2 separate regions of the Homo sapiens genome follow, and region 1 is linked to region 2. Evidence: fine-mapped expression QTL. A gene starts in region 2. The other region holds a variant in brackets. All regions are shown on one strand. Distances are from middle to middle. Region 1 holds the start of PKNOX2-AS1 (PKNOX2 antisense RNA 1). Region 2 holds the start of PKNOX2 (PBX/knotted 1 homeobox 2).

What was found.
Region 1: its variant is fine-mapped to the expression of PKNOX2 in spleen (GTEx, PIP 0.96).

What each region holds. Positions count from the first base shown.
Region 1 is chr11:125,266,393-125,271,765 of GRCh38, reverse strand. The region is part of intron 2 of PKNOX2 (PBX/knotted 1 homeobox 2); the gene reads right to left. PKNOX2-AS1 (PKNOX2 antisense RNA 1) reads left to right here and starts at 4,968. Exons shown (of 2, transcript NR_187382.1): 1 at 4,968-5,126. The variant C/T (reference allele first, on the strand shown) is at 2,926.
Region 2 is chr11:125,161,492-125,166,864 of GRCh38, reverse strand. It overlaps PKNOX2 (PBX/knotted 1 homeobox 2), which reads right to left and starts at 2,114. Exons shown (of 13, transcript NM_001382323.2): 1 at 2,089-2,114. It overlaps PKNOX2-DT (PKNOX2 divergent transcript), which reads left to right and starts at 2,256. Exons shown (of 3, transcript NR_125759.1): 1 at 2,256-2,524. RefSeq lists a silencer at 2,252-2,401.

The DNA of each region.
Region 1 (5,373 bases), 100 kb before region 2:
CAAGGAGGAGGTGCTCCTTATGGACCCTGGGGGATTTTTTTTTTTTCTTGACAAAGTCATCAATTTGCTGCTCTCCTTCCCTCAACTCTGCTATTTTCATGACAGGACACACATTGAAGGTCTAGACAGAACTGAAATCAGTGTCTTCTGGAACACAGGAACTGAGACTCCTCTGAAAACCAAGTGAGCAGAGTGCTCTGATACAGTGCCAGCATGGCAAATACTGAATGAACAAATGAAAACAGGAGTGGGGCTGAGAGCTGACCCAAATATGCACTCTGCCTTGGGATGGAGGTAGGGAAGAAACCCCGGTGCAAATTATGGGAGGAAGTCTATTCAAGAAAGGAGAGCATGGAACACTGTATTCAGGGAGAATTCAGCAATGGAGATGTCCGGAAAGAGATTATGAGTGTCTTGTCAGATTGACACGGTGTACAAATGGAAATCTGGTATTACTAAGATGAAAGCCCATTTTCTAAAAGCAGAGCAAAATGGCCAAGCTGGACTTGTAGCAAAGTTTGAAAACTAACTCAGAGCTCCTTAAATCCTTCCTAAGAAGGAAGGCCAGAGTATATACTAGAGTCTGGGTAGAATTCAGTCCCATGGCTATCCCAGCAGAGAGGACGGGATGGTGGGGCAGGGAACTGTGAAATCATTCAAACATCTTCCCTCCAAATCCACAGACAGGATCATCAGCCCCCATGAAAGACACAGAAGTTGAGTCACAGGGGTTAGTCCTGCAGAACTTCTTGTGTCACCCCCCAAGGCAGCTAAGGTTCAGCATCTTTGGTCCTAGCCAATCAAGAGCCTCTGAGATGCCTGGAAACTCCTCCCATAGGCCTTTCAAGTCAGACAGATCTCCACCTCCTGAATCAGCCCATGCCTGATACAGGCCCTGGTCCAGGAGCCTGAGTCAGGGGAGAAGAGCAGGGTGCTCGTGATGATTTCCAAGTTTCCTCCCGCCATCCTATCCTGGGAAACATGAAATGCAGAGTGCATCAGAGCCTCTCTGGGAAGGTGGGCTGGGGCCTGGGTGCCAATTGTTTAAATTTTCTCCTCAGTGGAATTACAGGCTGAGGAGTCCACATTGGCTTTCCAAACAAAGAGTGGCAAATTGCTAACTACAAAATCAATTTTTTTTCGAGTGTATTAGCTGTCCCCTCATTATTCTCCACCCCATGAAAGAATTAATGAGAGCCTGAGCCACAAGTGAATGAGGGCTTTTTAGCTTGGGAACACACACTGAATGGCGCCAGGCGTGGGACAATTACAGAAGATATTCAATAGGGGGAAAGGCTGACAAATGCCACATGAAAGCTGAAATTCAAACCTCCAAGGCTTCAGCCCCAGGTCTGGGCCCTTGAGATGACACATAGAGGCAGGATCAGCAGTGCAAGACACCATGTCATGGCAGGACCTGCAGTCTCCCAAAAGAGCCATTCACCCACCTGCAGAGGGAAGACCACACCTGGAGTCCAGGAGAAAGGAATGCCGATGCCAGTCATTCGGTTTGTAGGATTCCTCCCAGGGGAGAGAGGGCTGCTGGTAGTTGCAATCTTATCTGCGAGGTTGTGCTAAACTCACAGGAATTGGTAAATCCAGGAACACTGAGTTATTCAAATACTAGCCAAGAGTTCTTAAAACCTGAGGGGGCAATGGCTCTGATAGATGGATTCCTTAAGATAGCCAGAAAGACCATTGAATGGAAAAAGGAATGAGCAGAGGCGATGGTGGAATATTCAGAAACTGGATATTTTCATCTTCATTCCTTGTCTTAGTCACTGTTGTATCTCCAGTGCCCACAACAACACCTGGCACATATGAGGCACTCAATAAATATTTGTTAAATTAATGCATGCATAAAACCCAACTTCCAGGAAACTCTTTGCTACTGTGCCCCAAGCCAATCCTTGTGAGAACTCCCCAAAAGTCCAAGGACAACCGCCCCCGACCCCGTGAGGATGTACCAAATGTCCTACATCTAAATGTCCCAGCATCCTTTTGGATGAATGCTACCAAGTGCACTTGAAGAGACCTGGACCACCCTTGCCCCATTCTATTGAAGATAGAAGTGAGTTTCCTGTTTCATTTCCAGACTCACTCTCAGCCTCGCCCTGGACAGTGGGTACCATCTCCATCCATCAACCAAAAGCACACAAAGAAGAAACAGCTGAGAGTCCAAGAGGGCCTCAGTCTAGGAGACTTGGTCGTGCCTCTGCCAGTGTCAGCAGTCAGGCTGGATTCCTCAGCCCTGGCATTAATTGTAGCCCCTGTGCTATGATTACAAAATGGAATTAAATGACATGCCAAATTAAAGAGTTATTTTTTCTAATATATATTTTGCATAGGATGTGTTTGTAACAGCATTAATTATTTACACTGCCACAGAGAGAAAGCATAAATATAAAGAGAGAGATCAGATGGTTCCTGTAGGAGAAATAAAATGAGCATTTCCATCAGGATGATGAATACCTGCGGTCTCACTTTGGGGCTGGGCCTAGGGGGAGGTGGAGAGAGGGGGACATCTTGAGAACAAATCTGACAAGCGTTATCGAGGTTTTTGAGGAAGGAATATGTTAAAAATGAAAGTGAGTACAGAAAGTTTAAATATTTAATACCTGCATTAATTCTAATTCACACTTTCTTTATTTTTCAGATTAAAAATTTACAAGAATTCCCATCTCTTTCATCCTTCTTCCTCCCATGAGACACTTTGTGGTCACTGTTCCAGGGACCACCTTTGGCAGCATCTAGGTAAAAAGGGGCATGAGAACAGCAGCCCCCCTGCCCTCCACCCCACCCCCATGGCACCCTCCCGCCATGGGCATCTCCCCCAACTCCCCTATGAGAAGCCATTGCTGTCGGGCTGCTGGCGCCAGAATGACTAATGGGACCAAAGCCATTTCCTGGCCTCCTCAGCCCCCA[C/T]CCCAGAAAGGGTCACGGAATTCTCAGAGATGATGCAGCCAACTTGTGGGTTTAAAGTGCTTGTCCGAGCCCAGATCTCACAGGCACAGGCAGAATACCACCACTGAACTGATGTCTTCTTGAAACAAGAGACTTCTGTCCCACACAGCCCCAGGCCCCCCTGCCCTTCAGAAGCTTTTATTCTAAGGCCAACCAGACCAGCTTTATATGCTTTCAATAATATCACTGAAAGCCAGCATTGATTGACTTGGAAGCAAGGGAGAGCTAACTTCCCGAAGTCACCAACACCAGCTCCCAGCTTCAGCCCTGCCCCAACCCCAGCATTAAGCAGGTGAGCAAACTGCTCTCCTACTAAGAACAGCTTATACATCTGAATTCCCTTACAAAGCACTTTCCCATGCCACGTTTGACCCCAGAGTCCTGTGAAGCGGTCAAGGAGCTGTTATCAGCCTTCATTTTATACAGGAGAACACCCAGGTCATGTGACAGACCTAAGGTCTCCCCATTTAATTAAAATGTTTCCACTGTTACAATGCAGCTTCTACAGCACGCGGTTCCCAAAATACTGCATGTGAAAGGGGAAGGGAACATTGGGTTGAGAGATGCTTTTAACCCCACTCCCTGGTTTCCAAGTGACCTGTCTGCGTTGGGGGCCGACGTTTTCCGAGATGAGAGCAGGGAGGGGCAGGTGGGCCAAAGGACTGCATCTGCTCCCATGAGGGCCCGCTGTGTCCTTGCTCCTGTTTTCCCTGAGATTCTCAGTGACCTCAGGCCAGAGACCCTCAGAGGAGAGTTGTTGGCAAAGTTTTCTCAAAGCCCCAACATTTCTGTGACTCCCTGAGTTTTAAGTTGTCAGATACTGTGGCATTTTCCCCCTTCTTCTCACACCCTACCATCCTCCCATCACTTGCCACAAATTCCTGCACAAAACACCTTCCTAAACAGTGTTGATGAGCGCCTTGTTCTCATCAGGCCTCTGATCGAAGACAATTCCCTGACTCCATTCCTACTCTTCCTCACAGATCTATCAACCCAAAAAGTGCCTATAAATCAGCAGAGAAAACACACACACACACATGCACACACACACGCGCACACATGCACAACACATGCACACACACACGTGCATACACACACACACAGGCTTCCTCCATCAGAAAGATGAGCAGGAAATCTCACCTGTGGTAGAAATCTGAGCTATCAGTCTGGCGCTGGGAGATGTTTGGGGTTGTTTGTTGTTTTTACTTCCAGATACCTGCTGGAGTCAGGCCATCCCTTTAAACGAGAAGAGCGGAGCTAGAAAGCACCCCAGCTTAAGGCCTGGAGAGCAGAATCCCTCTAAGCAGTAGCTTCTTCCTCTCCCTCACATAATTCCACAGCCTCTTACTGAAAGGGCAAGGAAAGAGATGGCCCAGCCAGGCAGAGGGAACACCTGAATGAGCTCAGGAGGAGAGGCTGCCATGATAGCTCCTCCCTCTACAAGCCTTCAGGACAAGCACATCCTTCCTGACCCTTCCATTCACTCCAGATACGAGCACTATCCCGGGACAGGACTTAGATCCACGTGGGTACGGGAACACACACATGAGCACAAGGGGAGGAGTTTGGTAGAACTGTCGTTCCAGCTTGACCAAACGTCTACCTATGCTTCCCAACCTCACAGGTTGTGAAATTTTCAAATGATGGAGGGAGGAAAGGACATAGCAGAAGAGAAGGTGAGTTAGCCAAATGGAGATACCGATCAGGGTCCGTGCTTTGGCTGGTGACGGAAACAGACAATGATAGCAAGGACAAAACCCCTCCCTCTCATGGCCTCTAAACAGCCTCTGTCTCAGAGAAATCAAAAGGGAGATTTTTCCACAGAAAAATCAAAAGGGAGATATAGTGCTTGCCGAAGGCACATTCCTAAGGCCCTAGCACAACGTGGAGCGCATGATAGGCATGCTTGTTCTTTCTCCTCATTTCCCCCTGTTCTTTCCTCATTTCCTTGTGCTAAGTAAAATGACTTTAGAACCTGGGTGGGAAGTAGGGAAGAAGCCGTGAGTCCCGTCCTGACCTCCAGACCTTGCATGTGGATTGGTTTTGCTGCTGTAAGGAAAGGGCTCAAGGACAGCAGCTCAGCATCCTGTGGCTGCACACGCAGAGTGAGAGGGACATGGTGGCAGGGCCTATCGAGGGTCTGCGTGGCCAGGAACGAGGAGGTAAGGAGAAAACGTTCTCCCTTCTTACTGGGAGGAGCTCTTTGCAAACTGAAATGAGATTGTCTTACTGCAGAAGCCTACTTTTATTTTTAAAAAGTTATTTTCACAAAAATTAATACCCCCTTCCTGCCTCCACACATCCATAATCCCACCCCTTCAGAAAAGCAGGGCTGTCTTCCAGCCTCTGTCTCGCAGGCATTTTACTAGTGGGGAGGATGAAAGGTTCAAGAATCAAGGACATCACACT
Region 2 (5,373 bases):
GAGCATTTGAAACCCGAAAAGCTAATATCCTGAAGTCTCCGGACAGGAGAGATGACAGTAGGGCACTCCAAGCTTCCTCCTCCCCCGGGCGCACCAAAGGCCGGGTTTGTGGGCTTCTCAGTCCGGCGCGGGTAAGCACAGGAAGCGGCTCCAATCAGGGCACTGGAGTTTGAGCCGGTCCTACCCTGGGCCACAGCCCAGACTCCTCGGCCCACTGTGGCACCTCGCTGCTAGCGCTGCCCCCCGGCCTTCATCGCAGGCCGCGGCCCCTGCGGGCCACCGCTCCCGCCCCGCCGCGCTGCGCCCGCAGACCCAGGTGGCTCCTGGAGCACTCCGAGCCGCCTGGGTCGGGACCTCAGATCCACTCCCAGCCCCGCGAGGCTGCCCTGCCGCTTCGCCCAGAAGGTCTCTTCGATCTGTCCGCTTCCCGGAATCGCTCTCTTAGGACCGGGTCCTGTGTGGCCCAAGTCCTCTCCTCCTAAAGAAACACTTTCAGGGGGAAGCAGCAAAAATTCGGGGCTCGCCTGCCATGGCTCAGATCAACTACTTTCATCGCCTACCTAAACGCTTTTTCACACGCGGAGCTGCAGGACCCCTCGTGCTACCCTCCCCAAATTCCAATAGCTTCCACCACAAGAAAAAGCTGTGATCCTGTTACTGAATCCTAAAAACGCCACCCGTTCCTCCAGCCCCCAACTCCGACCTCCAGCCCTCTGCTCTGGCCGGCGTGTAAACTACTTATCGGCCCCTCGATCCCGATTCCGTAAACAGTCTGGATCCTATAAACCGAACTCTAGACTGGTCCTAAAACCCAGCCCTAATTCAGGCCGATCCACAAGCCCCTACCCCTCAATTCCCAACCCGAGTCTCCCCACCGCGCGGAAACCCCCGGCTCCCCCGTGAAGAGCCCCGGGAAAGGACGGCCCATTTCGCTCGTTTCTTCCTGGGGATCGGGAGCCAGGAAAGCCCGTCTCCTAACCCGAAAGAAATGCAAACTTTGAGCGGCAGATTCGGGATCCTGCGCCATCCCCCTCAGCTCTCCGCTCTCGATCGCTTTCAGTTCCCTCTTTTACGAACTCATCCCCTAGTTCTCGAGCCAGAAGGGCTCCCGATTCCCAAGCCTCGCGCGGGCCCCTACGCCCGCCTCACCAAAGATCCCCAGCAATCATGGAAAGCCGGTGACCCTACACATTCTCGCTCCTCCCTGGGTGAGGGTCCGTGCGTGTAGCCCCTCGGATCCTGGCTTCCCGGGCCCCGCCGGTGTTCCCCTGTCTCCACTGATCCGTCTGCAAACCCTCATTCGCCCTGCCTCCCCAGGCCGCGGCCGCGGCTCCTCGACTCCTCCGGTCACCTGGCCCCAGCCTGGGACCGCTCCCGCCTCCAGCCGCTGGAAAGCATCTCCAGGCTGGTGGCGCGGAGTAAGCGCCGGCCCCAAGGACGCCCGAAGCCGGGAGAAAGAGAACCTGGAGCCTGCCCGCGGTTCCCAGCCTCTCCCCGCGGAGCGCCCGGCCGGGAGCCTTCTGCACCCGGGCTCGGGCCGGCGTGCCTGTTCCTATTCTCGGGTCCCCTGGCGCTCCTGGCGCACAGCTCCCCGCCCGCCCGCTACGGGGTTGGGCCCGCGGCGATTCGAGTCCGCAGCCCGGCTCCTTGCACCCGAGGACAATGCGCGGCCGGCCACGGGCCCAAGCGCGGCGAGGCGGCGGCGGCGGCGGCGGCGGGGCTGAGCGCTGGCCGGGCAGGGGAGCGGGCGGCCCGCGGGGCTCTCGCAGCCTCCGTGCCCGGCCTCGCCGCCCCTCGCGCTGCTCCGCTCCGCGCTCTCCCGGCGCTTCCCCAGCTTCTCTCTGCACGCTCCCGCCGTCCCTCGCTGCTCCCTGCCTCCCTCCTCCCTGCTGCCTCCCTCTCTCTCCTCCCTGCTGCCTCCCTCTCTCCCTCTCTCCTCCTTGCCCTGTCGCAATGAATAATACTCTGGCTTGGGGACTGGAATAAAACACACGCGCTCTGAGGCAGCCGCCCGCAGCAGCAGCCGCCGCCGCGCCGCCGCCGCCGCCTGCAAAAGCGTCTCTGACATGGAAATGAATGACAGCTTACCTGATGCCAATCTTCATCAGACTGACACCGGCGTGACAACACAGCCTATACTTCCCAGCACTGCTCGGGACGTCAGCGGCACAGGGACCCGCCCCCCGGACCCCCCCTTCACACACCTCCCCTCTCCCCACTCCCCCTTTTCTCCCCACCCCCCATCACCCCCACCCACTCCCGGCCCGGCCGCTGCCAAGTCGGAGGAGCCGCTGGAGTGTCTCCCTCTACCGGAGGCTCTCGGGCGGCGGGCGCGGGCCTGCTCCTGCGGCAGGGAGGCGGGCGGCCTGGAGAAGCGGCTCCGCTCGCGAGGAGCCTCGGATGGGGAGTGCGGTGGACCCCCAGGAACTCTGGAGCACCCTCCCGCCCCCAAGCCAAGTCCTCCTTAGCGAACAACCGGGGCCGAGTTCCAAGATATCACCGGTGCTGAGGGGACCGAGATGAGGTGAGATTTTCTGTGGACCCCAAGAGAACTCCCCAGAAATGATGAAACTTAAAACGGGCAAGAAATCCTTCCTTCCACCAGCACTCCCCCTCCCCCTTTTCCTGCCTGGCTGGCCTCATTTTTATGATTGCATTTGAATAATTCTCATTACCCTGGCCCCAGAAAAGGTGTTCAGATGACACTCTGGTTAGTTATTCCTGGTCTCAAGAGCTTTTTCTGCTGTGGGCTTCCCGGGGTGTCTGGTTCAAGGTGGGGCAGAGGGAGAGAGGAAAGAGTGGATAGGCTTTGTCAGTAAAGCACTTCTTTGCAAATGTCAGGCAAGCCTGTTCTAAGCCACTGCTATTTTCATTCTAATAAAAAGTCCTCAAGAAACTCAGTGAGTTCCCAGAGTTCTGGGGGCTGGGGTGCAGTCATATAAAGGGAAAGACCAGCTGGGCTGTTTCAGCCTGGGCCTGCTGGGGTGGCTTCATCTACATCAGGGAGGAAATGGGCTCCTTACATGCCCTCTACAGTGGAAGACAAAAGCAGGCATGTGTAGACCCACAAGCGCCTCCATTCACTCAGCAGAGATCACAGTCCTACTAAGAGCCACACACAGGAGCACACTTGCTTGCTTCCTCAACTTAGCACATGGCCCTCCGCATAAAGGGACAAGAGAACCCCTTCTGCCTCTGGAAGTTTGCTTCTTGCTCCCCATAGAGGAGCCCTTTCAGCCAGTCAGGCAGCCATTGATCCTCTGACCCCAGGCCAGGCAGGGGGCCTGGAAGAAGCCCAGACAAAGACACCGACAAAAGCGGGAAAGCAGAAAGTGAAACCCAGCCTCTGGGTTTTCAGTAAAGAATCTGACCCAAGAAGTTGAAGGCTGCCCCTGAGCTCTTCTCAGGCCTCTGGGTCGCCACTCACCCGCCTCCGTCATGGGCAAGGATGAGAGCTGTTAGCATTGCCTGGCTCAGGGGAGGCAATTGAGACCCTTCTTATATCACATCCCAGATACACACACTACTGTTTGTCCAGATCCTCCCAATACCCTCAAATCCACCCACCAACGTTGCTTGTGGGAGAAACTCTTCAGTGGTAGCCCCCATTATAGACAGATTAGAATCCTCTCACCTTCACATAGAACCTTCAAAAACTTCACTAGGTGGATTTATGTCACCCTAGCCTCTGATCTGCAGTCAGAGTCTCTGGCTGCTGACAGCATAATCGCTATTATATATTATACATTGTATAATAATATAATAATAATGAATGCACTTGCCCTTTTTATGTGGTACAGAAGCGGCCAGATTCTCCAACCCAGAGGCTGGAGGTCAGGCTGCCATAAACTCTCAGAGGGAAGCCCTCTTCAGATAAGGGAGGGGGAGGGGAGATCCATTTGTCTCTGCCCAGGACCCCTGGAGGGAGGAGTTTCTCTCTTTCCCATGGCTCCCAGTGAGTTGCTGCAGCCTGCAGAGTCAGAGGGGAAAATCAGGCTGAATTCACCCCATCAGAGAGGTGTCAGTGAGCCATAAATAGGACCGCAGGCAACAGCCTTGGATCACTGATTTACACCTGTCACACCCCTCGTTTTCTGAAATCTAGATCAATGCCCAACACTTTCCTGATATGGGAGATCCATTGCCATGAGCTATTAATTTTTGGAGTCTTCAAATACTATGATTTTCACTAATACCTTTTTGGTGCTTTAAACTGCACATCGTAGTTTTAAGTAAATATATCTTGCTTTGACTATTTTTGTCATTTGCAAGAGCTTAAAAAATGATTATCCAAAATATAACCATCGTTTTTATAATCACTGAAGGCAAATATTTTCCCTGCACCCACCAGAAGCTCTGCTGTGTGCTAGCACTAAGAATAAAGAGCAGAAGCAAAGAGGCTCAGGTTATGGCTCCTGTCCTCAAGAAGCATTCATTTGTTGAAGAAGACAAAGCGCCAATATGTAAAACATTAAGTAGCAATAATACAGGAATCAACAGAAGACACAAGCTAGTAAATACTTAATGAAGAAATGAGTTGTCAATATGTCAAATTCCATGAGTTCCACATCTCAGTTTTGGCTCTGTCAATGAGTAGAGAAAGGATAGAGTAGAAATTAAGAATTCACTACAGATACTCTACAATTTCTTCCCCATCATCCCTCTGAGGATGAAGAAGAGAATGGAGAGGAATGTACATGTTGTATTGCATAAGCCATCAACACACTGACATTATAACCAAATAGAAGTTTCTACAAATCCTAGTTATCACTCCTAAATTTTGGAGTTTCTGTTTGGTTCTGGGCCCTCTTCTCACTCTACCTGCACTTTGTCTGTGGTATAAGCAGCCCACACCAGCCCAGGCTGCCTCCTCCAATCTTCCAATGTGGGTGATCAATGGCCCAACTGAATTCTGCCAATGTCACAATATGAATAAAAATTTAAGACCTGTCTGTATTAGTTTGCTCAAGCTGCCACAACAAAATGCCACACACTGGATGGATTCAACATGAGACATTGATTTTCTTACAGTTGTGGAGGCTGGAAGTTCAAGATCAACGTGCCAGCAGAGTTGGTTTCTGGAGAGGCTTCTCCTCCTGGCTTGTAGATGGCACCTTCTCACTGTGCCCTCGCGTGGCCTCTCCTCTGTGTACACAGGCAGAGAGACAGCTCTGGTGGTCTCTCCCTCGTCTTATAAGGACAGTCCTGTTGGATTGCGGCCTAACCTTATGACCTCGCTTAACCCCCCTAAAGGCCCTGTCTTCATATACGGTCACATTGGGGGTTAGGGTGTCAACATATTAATTGGGGTGGCGGACACAATTTAGTCCATAATACCACCCAACTACAGTTCCCTTCACTCTCAACTTAATT